3 linked regions of the Homo sapiens genome follow. The protein of the gene in region 2 interacts with the protein of the main gene of each other region in a biochemical or structural test. Each region holds a gene or a part of one and is shown on either strand. Other genes may lie near its edges. The genes, in order: EPB41L3, CNTNAP2 and CASK.

What was found.
Region 1: the proteins of CNTNAP2 (region 2) and EPB41L3 form a complex in vitro, tested with the Homo sapiens proteins (one study listed by BioGRID).
Region 3: the proteins of CNTNAP2 (region 2) and CASK form a complex in vitro, tested with the Homo sapiens proteins (2 studies listed by BioGRID and IntAct, with this or other methods).

What each region holds. Positions count from the first base shown.
Region 1 is NC_000018.10:5,393,997-5,401,107, reverse strand, and holds part of EPB41L3 (band 4.1-like protein 3), read left to right. Parts: intron 1-64; coding exon of another isoform or gene 65-139; intron 140-2,964; coding exon 2,965-3,087; intron 3,088-3,681; coding exon 3,682-4,050; intron 4,051-4,775; coding exon 4,776-4,907; intron 4,908-5,400; coding exon 5,401-5,499; intron 5,500-5,960; coding exon 5,961-6,041; intron 6,042-6,314; coding exon 6,315-6,425; 3' UTR 6,426-6,431; intron 6,432-7,111. UniProt on the Homo sapiens protein: Tumor suppressor that inhibits cell proliferation and promotes apoptosis. Modulates the activity of protein arginine N-methyltransferases, including PRMT3 and PRMT5.
Region 2 is NC_000007.14:148,408,796-148,415,906, reverse strand, and holds part of CNTNAP2 (contactin-associated protein-like 2 precursor), read right to left. Parts: intron 6,517-7,111; coding exon 6,436-6,516; intron 491-6,435; coding exon 291-490; 3' UTR 1-290. UniProt on the Homo sapiens protein: Required for gap junction formation. Required, with CNTNAP1, for radial and longitudinal organization of myelinated axons.
Region 3 is NC_000023.11:41,528,528-41,535,638, reverse strand, and holds part of CASK (peripheral plasma membrane protein CASK), read left to right. Parts: intron 1-665; coding exon 666-746; intron 747-852; coding exon 853-933; intron 934-4,429; coding exon 4,430-4,632; intron 4,633-7,111. UniProt on the Homo sapiens protein: Multidomain scaffolding Mg(2+)-independent protein kinase that catalyzes the phosphotransfer from ATP to proteins such as NRXN1, and plays a role in synaptic transmembrane protein anchoring and ion channel trafficking.

The sequences.
Region 1 (7,111 bases), on a different chromosome or scaffold from region 2:
TAACTTGCCTTTTTGGAAACTGTCTACTTCCTCTTCTCCAACCCAACCCCCTTTATTCAAACAGACCAAAGAAGAAACAGAGATTTCTGAAAAAGTTATATTTTTGCAGCAAGGAAGCGCTCCATTCCTTGAGTCTCAGGTAAAAACCAAACATAAAGGATTTTCCAGAAGAAATTGGTCTTCAGACTTCAGTGTCATTAAAATGCTCTTAGTTTTTATTTTCCCTTTAACATTTATCTTGTTTAAAACCAAGGTAGGTACATAATTTTGATTTAGATTCTGGGGAAGGGAAAATTGAATTTTCTTAATATTTTAGTTATCAGTTATGCATCATTTCTTCATGGCTTCTAATCCAAGCTGATTTTTCTCTGTATGTTGTCATTGACTTACTTTCTGATAATAATCTTGCTGAAATGTTGTTTTACTGCCTGTTTTTACCTGTAGAGTCGTGCTAATTTAGATGAAGTTGACTGATTTTGAAAGTTCTGAATTCTTATTGGTTTCCCCACTAGCCAAGTGTGATAAAGAAAATGCAGGAAGGAGACTCTGCTGACTCTGTGGTTACTTCTCGTCAAATAATTTTCCAGAAAACTGTCCCATCAACCCTAGAGGTTATTCTTTCAATTCATTTCATTTAATCTAGCAACAACATGTAGATCAATCTGTAGTGGTATTTTTAAAGGCACACGTATTTCTAGATTTAAGTTTTCAGGCTGTAAAAAACAGAAAAGTTTCTAGAAAACATTCTAGTTTAAAATGTAAACCAGGGCACTCACCTGCTCCTGGTTTGATATCTCTTCCCTCTGTAATCTGTGAAGCTATTAACCTACCTGGTCATATTGTATTATGCCTCCCTGAATACAAAAGTTTCTTAGCTTTCCTTTCTTTTGCCTTATTGGAACTAACACTAAAGAAAGTGAGAGAGAAACTCCTGAGACAGTGAACTTCAGTTGTAAATAAGATTGGAGCGGGCACAATGGCATGTGCCTGTAGTCCCAGCTCCTGGGGAGGCTGAGATGGGAGGATCACTTGAGCCCAGGGGTTCGAGGCCGACCTGGGCAACATAGGGAGACCCCATCTTTTAAAAAAAAAATGTAAGACTCGAACACTGTACAGATCACTGTAAGAGGCTCTAATAGTGTCCTATTTGTGGGAAATATTTCATTACAATGCCTTGAACACAGTCACACTCAATATTTATTGAATAATAAGTGCTATTATGGATTCATTTCCCTGTATAAAGAAATACAATTTACAAATATGGAAAATATTTACATAAATTTGTAGAATGTTGGGAAGCTCTCTGTGATAACAGTATATGAAGTATAGATTATATTTAACGAGGAAAACTTTTATCCCCACACATGTAAAGCTAAGTAACTTATAGAGCAACATCAATAATGTTATTTAATCTTGAAATATAAAATGATCCAAAATTTATCATAAGAGCAAATCTGTTCTTCAAAAAATTTACTGCAAAGTATGTTCCAGTTTAAAGAAGTTGCAACTCTACCTACCGAATGTATTCTGAGCTGAAGTTTATAGTTTATCATTTCAGAGGAGAAGAGATTGCAGCCATAATTATTAGATAATAACATGAGCACTGTATGGTCCCATCACAGACCTGCATGTAGCAGTTGCCCTGATTTTCTTAAAGGATTCTTATTTTAGAAATGAGATACCATCAGAATTTCTAATTTAGCTTTTATATTTCAAATATAGGGCACAGAGGATTGGGTTATTGTAGACAGAATACCAACTGAGGTAGTTGATGGTGATTTGAAAAAGATTGTGACTTACAAGGTGGTGACCGTGAGCAGTAAAACTGGTGATCTCCCAGCTGACATGTTAAAATCTGGCACTATTAAAATGCAAAGCTTCGAAGAATTGGCTCGAGAAATGCAACTGAAAGAAGACAGCAAACAGAAAATATACACTCTAGGAAAATCCTATGACACTGTCTCCGGGAGAATTGTTACTATGACTGGGAAAGCTAAAGAGGGTGAGAAAGTGGAGCAGCCCTCCACTACAGAAGCACTTCAGAAAATGGAGAAAGAAATACCAGAGTCCATGAAGATCATTCCCGGCCTGGCAGAATATGAGGTCCTGGAAACCCTCGCTGATGAGAAATCCAAGAGAGGACCAGAGGTCCAGACGACACAGCGGAAATTGTCCGAATCCCTGGCCCCCATCAAGGAGGCCGAGTCTCGCCGGCAGAGTCCTGAAGAAGATGACCTCAAGAAGGCTCCACAGCTGGAGAAGGATGTGGCCGTCCTCCCTGGCCTGGAAGGCAGACGCTTCAGCAAAACAGAGCAAGTGCCCGAGAGTGAGGTCTTAAAAGTGGGCCTCTTTGGTCCCCGAAGGAAGAGCCTGTCCGAATGGAGATATTCCCAGGAACCAGCCTTTACCGTTGCTACTGCCCATTACGTTACTGAGTCATCCGCCTCCCGAGTAGTGGTAACCAGTGTCACTCATTGGGGCCACAGTTTGCAATTCCAGCATGACAGTTTTTGAGGCAGTCCCCTTCCACCCCAAACCTTTCCGTTTCTCTTGCTGCTTGGCTTTATGTTGAGAGCAGCCAACCCAGCTTCTTAATTTTTTTTCATGGTTAAATCAATACCGCAGTGCAAAGTCAGCATTAAAACACTTTCCATTTTATTTCCAGCTCCCTGTTCCCAAGATGTGATAGTGCTGCTGTGGCTTGCAATGAAGGGGAAAAAATATATATATCTGCTTAAATCGGCGCCACCCTGATCCTAATAACCGTCTCTGCTTTACCAAACAAGAGCACCTGGTTTTCTATTTTATTTCCCATTCTTTTCGTTTCCAAACTCTGAGATTCCTTCGTTCTTCCTCCTCCCTGTCTCCTCTGCCTACGATTTTGTCTAACAAGCTGTGAATGTTTATGTGCCTGAGTTTGTGTCTCTCTTTTGTGCTTGACTCTGCCTCTCTTTGTTCACTCAGACTAAGCAGTCTTCTGGGGAAAAGCTCATGGATGGCTCTGAAATCTTCAGTTTATTAGAGTCTGCGCGAAAACCAACAGAATTCATAGGAGGGGTTACTTCTACTTCTCAAAGCTGGGTTCAGGTGGCCATTTGTTTTCGTCCTTGGTGTTTCTGAATGTGCCCATGTGCCTTTCCTTACCCTTTTTTTGGGCGTGAGTGTGTGGTTGCATCCAGCTGGCTTTGCCTTCAACATCTCAAAGGTGTCTTCACTTATTGTCCTTTGTGTCTGCTTGGCATATCTGTCACATGCCTTTAGTTGCATCTCAAGAATGTACTTCACTATTCGAAAGGCGATCATATTGAGAAATTTTAATAGAATTAAATATCTAAAAGCATTATGTCTCACCAGTTGAGTCTAAGAAAGCAGCCAAAACCAACGTGAATGCGCTGCAATGCTTTGGTTTTTGTTTTGTTAATTGCACTTTATCCTGCCTTCCGTTTGTTTTGCGGATGTCCTGAAGCAGCAGCGCAGGTTCAAGTGCATGCACCAGGGGCAGGGGCAGGCATCAGAGATTTCAGTGGGAGAAATGAAAGCTAATTTATATTTTTCGTCAGTGTTTCTGGTTATAAGCACTTGCTGCTGGCTTTAGACATCCTGGCGAGTGGCAGCTTTAGTTATTTTCTGACCTTTGGTTTATGGATGGTCACACTGATGCCACAATCTCTTCCCATGCAGAAAATGGAAACCAAGACGGAGTCCAGTGGAATAGAGACGGAACCCACCGTGCACCACCTGCCGCTTAGCACTGAGAAGGTGGTGCAGGAGACCGTGTTGGTGGAGGAGCGGCGTGTGGTGCACGCGAGTGGGGATGCTTCTTACTCGGCGGGAGACAGCGGGGATGCTGCAGCACAGCCCGCATTCACAGGCATTAAAGGGAAAGAGGGCTCTGCCTTGACGGAGGGGGCTAAAGAGGAAGGAGGGGAGGAGGTCGCTAAAGCTGTCCTGGAACAGGAAGAGACAGCCGCTGCTTCCCGTGAGCGACAAGAGGAGCAGAGTGCAGCCATCCACATTTCAGAAACTTTGGAACAAAAACCTCATTTTGAGGTAACTAGTAGTAAATGTTACTTTTATCACTAAAATAAAACTGATATAGGATGCCTGGAAATTTAGATCAGCATAAAGGTGGAGCTAAGTTTAATTTTCTGCCTCTCCCATGTATAGTGTATTTCTCCTCTCATTTCCTTCTTTCATACCTAGTAGGAGTCTCCACACTGATTTCCAGCTTTGGTGTCACATGCAAACATATCTCTTAATTATTAATAATATGGCACCAGGAAATGGTTTCTACTCTCACTGAAATTATTATAATTGGCAGTAAAATTGGGAAATGCAAAGTTGGCCAAGATATTAGAAAATGTGATACATTTATTTCTTATCAGTGCACTTTTCCAGAAGCACCAAAACCATGTTTACCCGGGTCCTAAATGCCAGAACTTTATTCTTTATCCTCTTTTATTGAGATTCCTGAAGTATTTGGGGAGTTAATGTCTCATTATTAGTTTCTTCTTTCTAAGAAGTTATTAAATAGAAAACTTTTTTTTATTGCCTTCAAAATGTTTTGCTTTACTTGGAGCATTTCATATAAAAGTGCTATGAGAGTCCAGGAGACTGACATGTGCATGTTGTATGCCTCATTCCCCAGCTTACTCTCTACATAAACATTTATAGCATACTAACCTGTGCTTATAACCACCAAGAGAGGAAAAGGAAGAAAACAATGTGTTCATGCAAACTATAACAGCCACTCTGCTTACTCCCCTTTGGCACAGTCCTCAACGGTGAAGACGGAAACCATCAGTTTTGGCAGTGTTTCACCGGGAGGAGTAAAGCTAGAAATTTCCACGAAGGAAGTGCCAGTAGTTCACACCGAAACCAAAACCATCACATATGAATCATCACAGGTGAGATATTCTGTGAAGACCAGAGCCCTGGCTGCTTATTTCACCCCTCTATGGCCTAGTGTGTTTACATAGAACTGCACGATATTTAATTCATGAGACTTAGAGGATCCAGCAGCCAGACCATTTCTATTAAAAGTGATGCAATAATGGTCATTTTATTAGTGATCAGGGAGCAGCAGATGACTTAACCAAGTCTTTATGTGTCTTGAAGTGTAGAAAAAGGCTCAGAAACCTGTTTCCCTAGCCACAGAGAAAGAAAAATATTCACTCACCCATCCACCACTCACATTTCTGAAACCTTAGTTTTTTTAATGACAGTTACCTGTGGTTGCACTTAGTACTTATTCTTGGGAGCAGCGCTCAGACTCTGAAGAGCATAATGATTGCATAATAGGAGATAGTGAAATTGTCGTAATGCCTTAAATAACGTAGCCAACTTCTGAAGAGCAGATGTGAGCACCTGGATGAGGGGTCTATGCCTCTGCTGCTTTAGGTCGATCCAGGCACAGATCTGGAGCCAGGCGTGCTGATGAGTGCACAGACGATCACATCTGAAACCACCAGTACCACCACCACTACGCACATCACCAAAGTAAGTGGAGTGAGAACCGAGAAGAGGATTCCTTGAGAGCGAGCTGGAGGAAGGTGCTTGTTCAGAACTCCTCACAGGTTGGGCTGCACAAGCACAAGGTGGCTTGAAGCTCAGGACGCCGGGATAGCTGCAAGGGGAGCTTTTACAGCCCCTAGATTTACGATGCACTTGTCCTCACGTGCGAGTTCCCCTTTAGGAATATACATTCTGATATCCTAAGCTTAATGCTTACTCCAGTGCTTGGCATGTGGTAGTGTTCCAGAAACATGGGCCATCCAGACCCAAGGGCCTCCATTCCGTCCTCACCTCTGGAATTAAAAATGTGAAATAAGTGCCATAGAACTCTAATTTCAATTCTCGAAGAGTGAATGATGTCAGCATCTTCGGCCATTTCCCCCTACTGAACCATGATGGTTTCTCCCAGTGAGTAAATTCATAAAGCTTCTCTACGTGTCTTGCAGACTGTGAAAGGGGGCATTTCAGAGACAAGAATTGAGAAGCGAATAGTCATCACGGGGGATGCAGACATTGACCATGACCAGGTAGTGTGTGTGAGACGGTAAATACCCTGGCAGAGAAACAAAGAAAAACCTGTTGGTCCTACAGTTTCAATGCTATTCCTCTAGTCCAGCATGTATTCCGAAGAAAATTCCGAATTAACTTTCCAATATATGATTTATGATTCCTTTTGTAATCATTGTACCTCATTTGTAAATTGTGGATATAGATCTAGCTCATAAGTCTCCACCTCACCACTGATCATGCATGTTCCACCTCCTTTTTGTTTCTGCCCTTCTGTGATTTCCCGGGGATAGGCGCTGGCTCAGGCAATTAAAGAGGCCAAAGAGCAGCACCCTGACATGTCAGTGACCAAAGTAGTGGTCCATAAAGAGACAGAGATCACACCAGAAGATGGAGAGGATTGACCAGAGGTAAGAGGTGATGCCGATTCTCTAGGCTTGCCTAGGCTGGCATGAGGCATGGGGCACTTCCCTCTCATCCTTCACCTGATCCCTCCTTTCCTCTGTTCTCTCACTGGCATTTGTTGGGCTGGTTACCAAGAGGATGGAGAATTGGTTTATGGGTTTGTCTCACATTTGGAGCTTCCATTCTTGTGGAGTTTTTGCATGCACTGCCAGTTAGAGGATAAAGGAAGAGCAGAGTCTATGCTTCTATGCTTGTGTGGTCTTCCTGGTGTTCCCTTTTATTCCATGGCCTGCACTCTTTGATTATCCAAATTTGTAATGGCAAATTTGATTTTACTTGCCATGTGGCCTAATTGGAACAAAGGCAGTTTTGCTCTGAGAGGCTCAATTTGTGTGTTCCAAATACTAGGGAAATAATATATACCCCTTTCTCCTTCTGATGGCAACATTATCCCGTCGTAAGCTTTCTCTTCAACTGTGTTTGATTGTAACCTGTTTATGCTTTTGTCTTTAGTTTTGTTTTTTTAATTTGAAAGCTGAGCACTCACTTTCTTTTTGGATGTCTTATATTTCCTGTATTCTTTGGGATGATTTTTCTCCCTAGCGTAGCACTGTCTCAGAAGGAGGCAAAAAAAATGCAGTCTTGTGGTCCTGTAGAAAGCACATACCTTTCCAGTGACTGTTTG
Region 2 (7,111 bases):
TAAGACAGATAGTACCTACAAATTTCAACCATTGCTTAAACTCTAAAAGCATTTTTTGTATTATTTTGTTTTGATACAGAAGGGAAAACTCAGCTATAAAGAAATATTAAAAAGGTTTTTTTTTTTGTGATCAGTCTCAAGAATATTCCATTATATTCCATTGCCTGCCTCCCCCAACTTGTGCTGATATTTTAAGGATGTGCTCAAGAGTATGAAGCAGGGTGCTTTTGTCCCTTTCTCTCCTCCCTAGTAATTCCCTCCTCCCTATCCCATAGCCAAGTAGCCACCCCTCAAATGAGCCATTCCTTTTTGCTTTCATCAATGGTCTCTGTGAAGTTGGGGTCGTTGTTCATGATGGCGGCGTCCGCGCTCTCTGCCGACTCCGCCCCCTTTGCTTCGTTGGTATGGTAGGTGCCCTTGTGGCGGAACATGTACCGGATCAGGAAGACCAGGGTGCACAGGATGGTGAAAATCACCACAGCAATGACGCCTGACGGAGAAAGGAGAAGCACGAGAGGTTAGACAGGGCTTGGGAGTCCCTCCAACACTGTCCCCACTTCACTACAGCTCCGTCAGACACAGCCCTCTCCCATATAAAACACAACCTCCAAAACAACAAAGATAACAAAAATGAAGTAAGATGTCTGTTTTTGTCCATGAAGGAGTAACAGGAAAAACAGGAGTAACTTGTCTTCCAGCCAAAAGTAACTAAAATACTGGACACAGTCTATGAAATGACAGTCTACAGACATTAGAAAACAGGCAGAAAGGAACCATGATGTCTGAGAACAGAGAAACAAAAAGGAGGAATCCTACATTTTTCCTAGTTTTCTGGCTGGCAGCGATTTTTGGACAGCAGTGTAGGGAGGGGCAGCACAAGAAAGCACAGTGGTTTCCCTGAATGGAGAGGGGAGATAGAGTGGGCGCGCGAGAGAGCTATGTATAGAAAGAACCCTAATAATCTGCACATAAGTCTCTCTGAATTTGTGGCCGAATAATACTAACATGTGCATGTACAGAATAAAAGTCCACAGGCCAGGCAAAAAACCAGAGCTCACGGAGGGCTGGGAGATGTTTATAGTCCAACAACCACACTGAAGAGACCTCATTGAACAATCAGAGCATTTAATACAGTTGATAGAATGGTCATGCTGAAGGTGTTTGCTAAAATAGGCCTAGAATAAAGACTACTCTAGCTCTGTCCTGAAAAAGCTTTAAAACACATCTAAATAACGTCAAGCTGCAGAGAAAAATAATTCAGAGAAAAAAAATGTAGCAAAATGTCACTTGACCAGAAGAAACATCAGTCAATTAGAAGGAGAGCCAGAAAGGACAGAGCATGGAATGAGCAGATGAGGACAGTACAATAGCTATTAGAAACAGAAAGGACAGAGCATGGAATGAGCAGATGAGGACAGTACAATAGCTATTAGAAACCTGCACAGGGGTTTAAAGGAAAACATGATCAAAATGAGGGGAAAAAAAATGAGACAACGTGGAACTTGTAGAGGTGAAACACACAATGTCTGAAATGAGCAGTGGCTCGCGCCTGTAATCCCAGCACTTTGGGAGGCTGAGGCGGGCGGATTACTTGAGGTCAGGAGTTTAAGACCAGCCTGGGCAACATGGTGAAACCCGGTCTTTTATACTAAAAGTACAAAAATCAGCCAGGCATGGTGGCACGCTCCTGTGATCCCAGCTAGCCAAGATGCTGAGGCGTGAGAATCGCTTGAACCTGGGAGGCGGAGGCTGCAGTGAGCCAAGATCGTGCCACTGCACTCCAGCTTGTGTGAGGGGGGGGGGGGGGACTCTGTCTAAAAAAAAAAAATGGAAAAAGAAAAAAATACTGGATGAAATAATACAGATTAGATAAAACAGAAGTAAATATAACTGATCTAAACACTCCAATTAAAAAGTAGAGACAGTGGATAAAAAAGATGCCTACTATATGATATCTACAAGACATGAACTTTAAATACAGGTCAACAGTAAAAGGGTGGGAAAAGATATGCAAACAATAATCATAAGCTGGAATAGCTACGTTAATATGAGACAAAGGACAAGGTTGTTAGTAGAAATGAAGAACATTTCATAATGACAAAAGGGTGAATTCATCAGGAAGACATAATGTTCCTAATGTGTATAAATCTAACCTAAGTACAAAATAAATGAAGCAAAAACGGGCAGAACTGGTAGGACAATTAGACCAATTTGCAATTATAGTTGGAGATTTTTTAACACTGTTCTGTCAGTAACTGATAGAACAATTGAACAGAAAATCAGCAAAAATTTAAAAGACTCGAACAATACTACTAACAAGCATTACCTAATGATATTAGACCAATCCTACACATCTTTCTTAAAATATAGGAGGAGAAAACACTACTCAATTCATTTTATGAGACCAGCATTATCCTGACACTAAAACCAGAAAAATGTTACAAGAAAACTATGGAGCAATATATATATATATATATATATATATATATATATATATATATATATTTTTTTTTTGAGACGGAGTTTCACTCTTGTTGCCCAGGCTGGAGTGCAATGGCACGATCTGGGCTTACTGTAACCTCAGCCTCCCAGGTTCAAGCAATTCTCCTGTCTCAGCCTCCCGAGTAGCTGGGCTTACAGGCGCCCACCAGTACGCCCAGCTGATTTTTATATTTTTAGTAGAGACGGGGTTTCACTGTGTTGGCTAGGCTGGTCCTGAACTCCTGACCTCAGGTAATCCACCTGCCTCGGCCTCCCAAAGTGCTGGGATTATAGGCGTGAGCTGCTACGCCTGGCCACAATATTCTTTTAAATAGAATTTTAGCAAATCAAACCCAGCAATATGTAAAAAAGATCATGTATTATGATAATGTTAATCCTAGGAATGCAAGTTTGGTTTAACATTAAAAAATAAAGCAATGTGATTTACCACATTAAGCAAATAAGGAGTAAAACAATATGATCATCTAAATAGATGTGGAAAAAGCATTTGGAAAACTTCCAATACCCATTCATCAAACAGCTTTCAGTAAACTATGAGTAGAAGAAACTTTCTCAATCTGATAAAGGACATCTGTTGGAAACCTACGGCCAATATCCTATTTCATAGTGAAAGATCAAACACATTCCCCTAACATAGGGAACAATGCAAAATTGTCAAATCTCAATATTTATTCACTTTTGTACTGAAAATCCTACCCGGTGCAATGAAACAACAAAAGGATATAGACTGGAAAGAAACAAGTAAAAAAATCTCATTATTCTCAGATAAAATGCTTGTCTAGGTAGACAATTCTGAGGAATATACAAAAAAAGTTATTAGAACTAACAGCAAATTTAGCAAGGTCACAGAAGGCAAGGCTGATATAAAAGATCAATTATACTTTTATATGCCAGAGAGAGACACTTAGAAAATGAAATTAATGAAATAGTAAGCTGTTCAAGACTTCGCATTGAAAACCACAATACGTTGCTGAGAGAAACTGATGAGACAAATAAACGTATAGATACACCATGTAAAGATAGAAATACTAAATATCGTTAAGATGTTCTAATGAACCTGTCTTGGCCTCTCAAAGTGCTGGGATTACAGGCGTGCGCCACCGCGCCTGGCCAGGATTAGAGAACTTACATTGTTTATTTCAAGACTTAGTATAAAGATACAACAGGCCGGGAGCGATGGCTCACACCTGTAATCCTACCAGTTTTGCAGGCCGAGGTGGGTGGATCACAAGGTCAGGAGATTGAGACCATCCTGGCCAACATGGTGAAACCCTGTCTCTACTAAAATACAAAAATTAGCTGGACATGGTGGTGCGTGCCTGTAATCCCAGCTACTCGGGAGGTTGAGGCAGGAGAATCGCTTGAGCCAGGGAGTCGGAGGTTGCATGAGCCGAGATCGCGCCACTGTACTCCAGCCTGGCAACAAAGCAAGACTCCCATCTCAACAAAAAAAGATACAACAATAAAGCAAGCATGATATTGGCTAAGGAAAGATATATATAGACCAACAAAACAAAAAGCCCAGAAAATAGACACACACACACACACACACATATGTCAGTTGCTTTAACAAAAGTGCCAAGAAAATTCAATTGAGGAAAAGTATAGTTTTTTTTTTTTCAACAAATGGTCTTGGAATGACTAGATATTCATTTGGAAAATACTGACGTTGACTCTTCTCTCACACCATTTATAAACATTAACTCGAAGTGATTAAAGACCTGATGGCAAATGATAAAGTGATACAACTTCTAGAAGAAAGCTGAAAATCTTCAAAACCTTTGGGTAGGCAGACTTTTTAGATAGGACAAACCAACCACAAACTATAAAAAAGATTGGGGCCGGGCACGGTGGCTCACACCTATAATCCCAGCACTTTGGGAGGCTGAGGCGAGTGGATCACTTGAGGTCAGGAGTTGGAGACCAGCCTGGCCAACATGGTACAATCCTGTCTCTACTAAAAATACAAAAATTAGCCAGGCATGGTGATGCGTGCCTGTAGTTCCAGCTACTCAGGAGGCTGAAGCAGGAGAATCGCTTGAACCCGGGAGGCAGAGATTGCAGTGAACTGAGATCACGCCACTGCACTCCAGCCTGGGCAACAGAAAGTGAGACTCTGTCTCAAAAAATAATAATAAATAAAAGTTACGGACTTGTTACACTTATAGATGCGTATTATACTTCAATTAAGTTCATTTAAAAAAGCAAAAGACAGTGAGGATTGGGATCTTAATGGTAACAGGGATGTCAATATCGATCTACGCATGAGGCTCAGTGGCTATCCGAGGAGAGTCAAATTATTATGTAGCTGTCCATGGTGAGAAGAAAACACTGGAATATTTTAGATGCTACAGCTTGTTAAATCTTCTGATACATTTTTAGTTTTTATTATTTTCATTGTGCAAATTTACGGGGTACATGAGAAAATTTGTTACACGTATATAAGGAATAGTGGTCAAGTCATAGTATTTAGGGGTTCATCAACCAAGTACAGTACATTTTTGTTAGATATAGTCATCCTACCCTGCTAGCAAACCCGGAACTTGTTCCTTTTATCTTTCTTACTGTATGTTTGCACCCTGTAACCCACTTCTCTTCATTCTCCTTCCTCCTCCTGCTCAACTTTCCCAATCTCTGTTACGTGTTTTTCTTTCTACCTCCATGTGTGTAAATCTTTTAGCTCCTGTGTATCAGTGAGAATATGCAATATTTGTCTTTTTGTGCCTAGCTTATTTCACTTAAAATAATGACCTCCAGTGATTTTCTGATAATTTTTATTATGATAACTGAAATCAGACTGGCATTTCCCTTTTCGTATTTTTTTTTTTTTTTTTTTTTTGAGAAAGGTCTCAATCTGTCACCTAGACTGGAGTACAGTGGTGTGATCTCAGCTCACTGCAACCTCTACCTCCCAGGCTCAAGCAATTCTCTTGTCTCAGGCTCCCGAGTAGCTGGGATTACAGGAATGCGCCACCACGCCTGGCTAACTTTTGTATTTTTAGAGATGGGGTTTCACCATGTTGGCCAGGCTGGTCTTGAACTCCTGACCTCAAATGATCCACCTGCCTCGGCCTCCCGAAGTGCTGGGATTACAGGCGTAAGTCACTGCACCCAGCATTCCTTTTCATTTTTTTATAGTACGCTATCCTGGACCATTTTGGATGCGAAAGGATAAGACTGAAAAATATCCGAGGGGGATAAAGAAATGTCCTGGCTATGGTCACTACTACCTACTTAATTATTCTGAGTCTGTCCAGCTTTCCACTGCTATTTGTTTTTTACAAGCCAGCATTAAAAAGTAGCCAGGTTACATTTACTATATTCTTTCTTTCTTTCTTTTTTTTTTTTTTTTTTGAGACGGAGTCCCGCTCTTTAGCCCAGGCCGGATTGCAGTGGCACAATCTTGGCTCACTGCAAGCTCCGCCTCCCAGGTTCACGCCATTCTCCTGCCTCAGCCTCCTGAGTAGCTGGGACTACAGGCGCCCGCCACTGCGCCCGGCTAATTTTTTGTATTTTTAGTAGAGACGGGGTTTCACCGTGTTAGCCAAGATGGTCTCGATCTCCTGACCTTGTGATCCGCCCGCCTCGGCCTCCCAAAGTGCTGGGATTACAGGCGTGAGCCACCGCGCCCAGCTAATTTTTGTATTTTTAGTAGATATGGGGTTTTGCCATGTTGGCTAGGCTGGTCTCGAATTCCTGACCTCAGGTGATCTGCCCACCTCGGCCTCCCAAAGTGCTAGGATAACAGAGGTGAGCCACTGTGCCCGGCTATATTTACTATATTTCTTCACATCATATGTCATAATCTTTAAACAGCAAAATGAATAATGTAAAAACCTAGAAAACTTTTTTTCCTAGACTACTATGTTATTGACAACTATTACTTTCCATAGTTGAGTAGCCCCATATAAGCCTCCTCTAGACATCACCTACCTCCAATGATAGCCGAGTTTCTGTTGACTCCATTTCTTATAGCTTGGCCTTGTCCTGGATTATATGGAAAATCCGCACTGGCTGTAGAGAAAGAAAGAGTCAAGTGTCAGAGTCAAGTATACTATTGATCCCAAATAATTTGATACCTATTTCTTCATGCAACTCTTCAACACTTCCTGTTTTCCCAAATGAAATCTCCATTTCAGATGGACCCGTCTTGCCATTGTCTCCCACAAGAATCACAACAGCCTCCATCCCTGTTCCTGCTGTTTCTCTTTGCACAAGGCCTAGGTAAACACGACTTCCCACTTGGAGCAATATTAGAGAATCCTAGAGCTACCTGAGCTGGCCTGCTCTAGTTCCACAGACAGACGAGTTTATGCATTTGAATATGTTTCTTACATTTGGTTGAAATCTGCTTCCCATCCACTTTTAACCCCATGCACAACTGGTGGCATTCAATGTATTTGTAGATGAGCTTTTTACAGCTACAGTATTAAAAAGTTTAAAAAGGAATCATTCCTTTAAACTTGTATTTTTCATGGCTGTAATAAGACACTGGCACACTTTAGGAATTTGTAAGGGGGTAATAATTCAAAACAGTTAAGAATATTAACTGCCTAGTGAATTTTCTATTTCTTTCCCTATTATAAACGTAAGAATCAGTTGTGTTAAA
Region 3 (7,111 bases), on a different chromosome or scaffold from region 2:
GAAAGCATGTAACTCTCCTTACATATTCAAGACTTTCCATTGAGTGGATATCTGGGTTACAGTAAAGCTTGTGAGATGCTCATTGATAAGCTTGTGCAATAGTTACAGAACTTGCCTTAGAATCTAGCATGCCACCTTCATCAACTCTGTTGAAAGAAAGAACCATGAAGTTAAAGACCAGCTGTCCATGCATTTCTCATCCATCTCTAGAAATGATCTAGCTGGCCCCTCTCCTGGTTAACTTTAGTTGCATTCATGCTATATTCATGTTGGTCACTGTCTGTAGACTTTTTCTTTTTAGTATTGCTGACTTCTTAGAATTGGAAAAATATGAACAGCATGTGGTTTCAAATTAATTCATATGATTTGTTGGATACTACATGAAAAGATATGTAGTATCTTTTAGATTTGGACATTTTAATGCATGTGTTCAGCATCTTTGGATGCCCCTGGTTCTAAAGAGCATTTTCATGGGCTTAAAAATGAAAATTTCTCCCTAGATGCTATATGACTTAAATTACATGTAAGCCATATATCATAAGTTGGATTCATATTTTTAAGACATGGTTTTAATATAACTGTAGTTTTGCCAGTAAAATTATAATTTATGTACATGAAATAGTCATTCTACAAATTTACCTTTCTTCTAAATCTTTGCGTTTTAGTGTTTGATCAATTAGATCTTGTCACATATGAAGAAGTAGTAAAACTGCCAGCATTCAAGAGGAAAACACTAGTCTTATTAGGTAAGTTTGATTGTGTAAGTGAGTTGCTTATTCTCACTTTCAAAACATTTTGTGAACATTATTAAGAGTTGTCAGTTTTAACATTCTTTTTTTCTAAATGACATAGGCGCACATGGTGTTGGGAGAAGACACATAAAAAACACTCTCATCACAAAGCACCCAGACCGGTTTGCGTACCCTATTCCACGTAAGCAATGTCTCAATCTCTTTTCATTATATTTTTCCTATCACTTTTTTAACTCTATAATTTATGTATTTTTTTCTGATTACATAAGGTATAACTGTTCATTGTAGGAAATTTGTAAAATCAAAAAAAGAACAAGGAGGAAAATGAGTTAACAGTAATCCCAACCCCTCTTTCCCTATAATAAGTGCTATAAATATTTTGTTGTATACCCTTCTAGGCTTCTCTGTTGTATACCCTTCTAGGCTTGTCTTAGTACAGATATGTGTATAAAGTGTGTGTGTGTGTGTGTGTGTGTGTGTGTGTGTGTGTGTGTTTTAAATAAAATTAGTTTTATCCATTCTGTTTGTAACAATTTTTCTAACAATATGTCATACACATTACCTAGATGAATTATTCTTCAGAAAAATAAGTTTTCATAGTTGTACAGTTTCTGATATGACAATTTTTTTCCCTTAGTTAATATTTAAATTGTTGATTTCTTACCACTTTTTAAACCCAATCAATATGCTAACAGTTGTTTCTGTAAAGATTTTCAAATCTGTAAGATTTTTAATTCTCCTTATTTTCCGTATCTTATTCTTAACCTCTTGCCCTCTTCATTTTCTCAATTGTAAAATGAAGTAATTCAGGATTGCAGAGAGGATTTGAGATCATGTGTATGAAGCACTTAGCAGATGGTGGATAAGTAGAAGCTATCTACCACTATCATTTCATTATTATCATCATTATTCTAAAGTTTAAAATTTTAGGCCAGGCGCGGTGGCTCATGCCTGTAATTCCAGCACTTTGGGAGGCTGAGGTGGGCGAATCACCTGAGGTCGGGAGTTTGAGACCAGCCTGACCAACATGGAGAAACCCCGTCTCTACTAAAAATACAAAATTAGCTAGGCATAGTGGTGCATGCCTGTAATCCCAGCTACTCAGCAGGCTGAAGCAGGAGAATCAGTTGAATCCGGAGGTGGAGGTTGTGGTGAGCCGAGATCGTGCCATTGCACTCCAGCCTGGGCAACAAGAGTGAAACTCCGTCTCAAAAAAAAATAAATAAAATTTTAACCCCAGAAGCTTTCTAGCAGCTCAGGGTTGGAAGAGCTAAAGGAAAATTATTTTTTAAGAGCAACAGGAGAAAATGTGAAGATTGGCTCCATTCTATAGGGCCTTCACATGCCTTCCTGAAGCAATGTCAATACCACTTACAGTTATCTGTACACCTCAGAGAGCCAGGAGGCTTCATGAGAAAACCTTCATCCCAAAACCTTGTCTGATTTACACAAGAAAAGAAATGTATCCAATAGTGTCTCATTTGGCACTACTGGGGTTTTCTAGTAAAACACTTTGAAGTGTTCTTTTAATTCTCCTTATGTCTAGATCATGAGTACAGCAAGCTTAGCTAACATTTAGCTTCTTCTTAACCACGTAACAACTGAACTTCCATGTTATTAAATGGCCAGTTAACTAGTTTGGTTTTAAAACTTACCTTTGATGATGTCAATCATGACTAGTCTTTGAAATATTTGACCCTGTATGTGTATATAACATATATCTAACTACTGAGATGACTGAAGATAGTACAACATCAATATGTTATGTAAGTTCTTGGCTGGGCGCGGTGGCTCACACCTATAATCCCAGCACTTTGGGAGGCCGAGATGGGTGGATCACATGAGACCAGGAGTTTGAGACCAGCCTGGCCAATGTGGTGAAACCCCATCTCTACTAAAAATACAAAAGTTAGCCGGGCATGGTGGCACACACCTGTAGTCCCAGCTATTAGGGTGGCTGAGGCATGAAAATCGCTTGGAACCCGGGAGCTGGAAGTTGCAGTGAGCTGAGATCTTGCTACTGCACTCCAGCCTGGGCAACAGAGTGAGACCCTGTCTCAATAAATAAATAAATAGTAACGCCGGTTCTTCAGCTTTTGATGTGCCTAGAGAAAGGGCTTCTCTTAAAATGTCCACATTTTGATGACCACGAGCACTTTATGTTCTAACAAACAGGCTAGCAGGAAAGGGGGATTCCCCATTAGTTTAGGCTCATGTATACAGAAGAGAGTAGCATAAATTTGTTCTTTCTCAAAGAAAGAAGGAAGCAAAGAAATTGAGAGAGAGAGGGAAAAAAAGGGAAGGAAGGGAGAAAAGAAAGGGGGGTAGGGAGAGAGAATATTAAAACCAGTGTTCCTGGCTCATCTAGAAAAACATTTCCTAAAGTGTGTTTTGCAGGATACTGGTCCTATTAGTATCCACAGAACTAGAGCTTATTGGCATATACTTCAGTTACACTCACTTAGGTGAGGGGTGGGCAAGCCTTTTCTGTAAAGGACCAGATAGTACACATTTGAGGCTTTAAGGCCATACAGTCTATCACAAGCACTTAGCTCTGCTGTTGTCTCATGAAAACAACCATAGGCAATATGTAAACAAAAGCACATGGCTGTGTTCCAGTAAAACTTTGTTTACAAAAACAGACAGTAGGTGGCCAGGTGCAGTGGCTCACACCTGTAATCCCAGCACTTTGGGAGACTGAGGCGGGCAGATCACCTGAGGTCAGGAGTTTGAGACCAGTCTGGCCAACATGGTGAAACCCCGTCTCTGTTGGAAATACAAAAAATAGCTGGGCATGGTGGTACACGCCTATAATCCCAGCTGCTCAGGAGGCTGAGGGCACAAGAATCTCTTGAACCCAGGAGGTGGAAGTTGCAGTGAGCTGAGATCGCACCACTGCACTCCAGCCTGGGCTACAGAGTGGGACTCTGTCTCCAAAATAAAAAAATAAAAATAAAAAAAGACAGTAGACCATGTTTGGCCCATAAGCCAGTTTGTCACCTCCTGATTTAGGTCTTCCATAATAATTATGGGTATGTCTGGCCACAGTCATTGTGTTTTCAGTGTAACGTGTCTTTTGCTGTATCCTAACATTCTCCTTTTGCAAGATGTTATAGAACATCACTTTTCAATAGAACTTTCTGTGACAATGACAGTACTTGATGTCTGTGCAGTCCAGTACAGTGGCCACTAACCATACGTGGTTATTGAATCCTTGAAATGCCACTAGTGAGACTGAGAAACTAAAATTTGAATTTTATTTAATTTTGGCTTATTTAAATTTAACCATATGCAGTTTTCCATTTTTTTATTCTCCTTTTTTCCTTCTACACAAGACCCAACTGCATTAAGGCATACAGTGAGTTATATTAATCTTGGGTCATTTCACGTCTTCCTCCTGTGGTGGTTCATGAAGGGATAAAATACATCTCACCTGAACACTGAAAGTTTCACCAAACCAGACAATTCACTGGCTACTATGGTGTGATGCACACAGATAAATATGGTTTCTAGAATTTAGTTCTGCAAAGCCACTGGGGGTGAGAACAGGGGATATGAGATATACGCTAAAGAATCCACAGCTTTTAGGAAGAGACTGGGTTTGAGTAAATCTGTTGGGAGTGTAGTAAGCTCATCAGCTCAGCCTTTTAAACCTCTTGTGCCATGCGACTTTGCAGATACAACCAGACCTCCAAAGAAAGACGAAGAAAATGGAAAGAATTATTACTTTGTATCTCATGACCAAATGATGCAAGACATCTCTAATAACGAGTACTTGGAGTACGGCAGCCACGAGGATGCGATGTATGGGACAAAACTGGAGACCATCCGGAAGATCCACGAGCAGGGGCTGATTGCAATACTGGACGTGGAGCCTCAGGTAATGCCCAGCCTCCCCGAATGTCTGACATCCTGCCTGCATGCCAATAAGCACAGATTCTGAAATCAAAAATGCCATCAGAAAGTCACAGGTCACATAATAATTTCATAAACCACAGAAAAGTATCAGTAATGGAGGCGTTGGGGGTTCACAGTCTAGAATGCCAGCTGACTAATCGTTGGACTCAGTGCACACACCATGTATTTAAGAAGCAGAGATTATTCTCTTAAGAGGTTTATTATATGCAGAAGCTCAGTAAGGTTCCTGATTGTGTCTACGCCTGCCAGAAATCCTACGATCATCTGACCTCAGGATGAGGCTCTGGCACTTTGTTATCACAACAGCCACCTTCCCTCTCTGGGTACAGCTCACGCTGGACCATCAGAGCCTCTACCAGCACATTATGTTAATCTCCAGTGAGAAACTGATCCTGGGGCCTGGGTCTGAAACACAGCACTAGCTTTATGAAAGCAAGCATGAGTGAGCCCAGATGTCAGAGACAGCAGGGATGGAAACCCATGGTGGCTCTCAGCCTCTGCCATTTCCTTACCTGAGCACAATGCCTGACCCTGAGCAAAAACTAGGAGAGAGATAAAGACTTGGAAGAGGACTCAAAAGAGAGCCAGACACAGAGATGATGAAATGGTTTCTAGATATGTCTTGCAGTAGGAATTATTAAACTTGAAAAAGAGAAAGCTGAAGGCTTTACATCAAAAATGCTGACAAGCTGTTTTTTCATCTCTGAGTACAAACCAAGTAGATATGGGAGGCAAAGTATAGTAGGAAGGATTTGGGAGTTGTAGACATCAAGGTGGGTTATAGGAGAGGCTTGTGGGTGCCATGTGACTCCTGGGTCTGCCATTTCTAGGACTGATCTGTACCAAATCTCCTTTAACCCTTAGAAATAGAACCAGTATGCTACCTGCTGAAATAGTAGACCAGCTTCCCTCAAGCAGGCTGTGTTTCATCAGGAGGCTTACCTGGCTATCTTAGGCAGGGCGAATCCCTGTTCAAGGGCCACTGTATGAGACTTGGTCCCCTAACCATCCCTAAAGCAAGGACAGAACCTATATAGCCAGAGTCTGTGTGACCTGGGACCTGACAGCTCAGTTTCTGGGCTCCAGGATCCTAATTCGTGGCCAGTGGGTTCACCCATTTCCGTTTACAACACCTGATGGGGTTCTTGAACTTGGAACTTTGGAAACCACAAAAGGATCTGTTCAAGGGGCTAGGGAGGAAAGCAGCAGTAGGGTGAACACTGCCGTTTACTTAACAATTAACTTGGACCTATATAGAACTAAATATATGATGTGTACCACAGATTGATTTTTGTTTAACTACTAATCCCTCCTTACTAGGGATTGGAAAAATCTTCTGGCCAGGGGTGGCTAGAGGCAAAGTCTCAATCCTGGTCCTGGTCTTCGACATCCTCTCCTTGGGTTCCACACTGGTCTTCACCTGAACGTCGTTTTCTGCTGGTAGTAATGTCTCTAGCAGTATGCTGGCTGCAGGGCTCCTCAGACTCCCTCTGCATTACCTAAGTCCACTTTCGAGGGCTTTCTGCCTTACCTGCCTCCGCTGCTGCCGCCGCCACCGCCACTGCTGCTGCTGCCGCTGCTGCTGCTGCTCCACCCATAGCGTCCAGCTCTCCCTTTCTCCTTGCCCTTGCACAGCCATGCATTGCTCTGCACTGCTGAGTGGGAGACACTTCTCTCAGCCTCCTCAGGACACCCACAGCAGTTACTTTTACCCATTGCACTTGGCCCCAAAGCACCTCCTCACCCCGGCTGGGCACTCTCCTCTGCTCCCCTGAGTGCTGGATGAGCTCACCTGCACTCTTCTCTCCTGCTTCCTGGGTCCCTGCCTCTCAGAACTGTGATCTCTCAGATCCACCTAGCCCTGAGGGCCGGCCATAGGCATCCTGGCTGCCTGAGTCTCTTTGGGCCAGCGGCCCTGGGGATAGGGATTGCCCAGGTCCTGCTCCTCCTGTTGGTCTGGTTGACTACACTGGTCCCAGGCCCTCCTGCGCAGGCCAGCCTCATGCCAGTCCTGGTCTCACAATGACCATTGCATACCACAGTACAGCTGAGAATGCCCGCAGTCTGCACCGACTGGGCTTCACTCTCGGGCTTCTCTGCCCTCAGCCCAGTCTCTCCTCAGCTGGACAAGGCCTTCATCCTGCCTTCAGGATACCCGTGACCATGAACAACTTGCTTTCAGGCAGAGCCTCACTGCTCCAGGGAGGCTCTCTCCTTAGGACATTTTTCTCCATCCCCCTTTCCCACTCCAGCTTCTTAGATGACCCCTCTACTGTATCTTACAGACAATTTAATCCAACAAACTTGTATTAAGCCCTTATTATATGTCAAGCACAGGGTCAGGAGCTAAGAATACAATTCAGAAGACAAGATGGTGAGGATGAAATTCCTTCCTCATTGTACATCCAAAACTGTCCATAACAGAAGGGCCTTGTGGCATT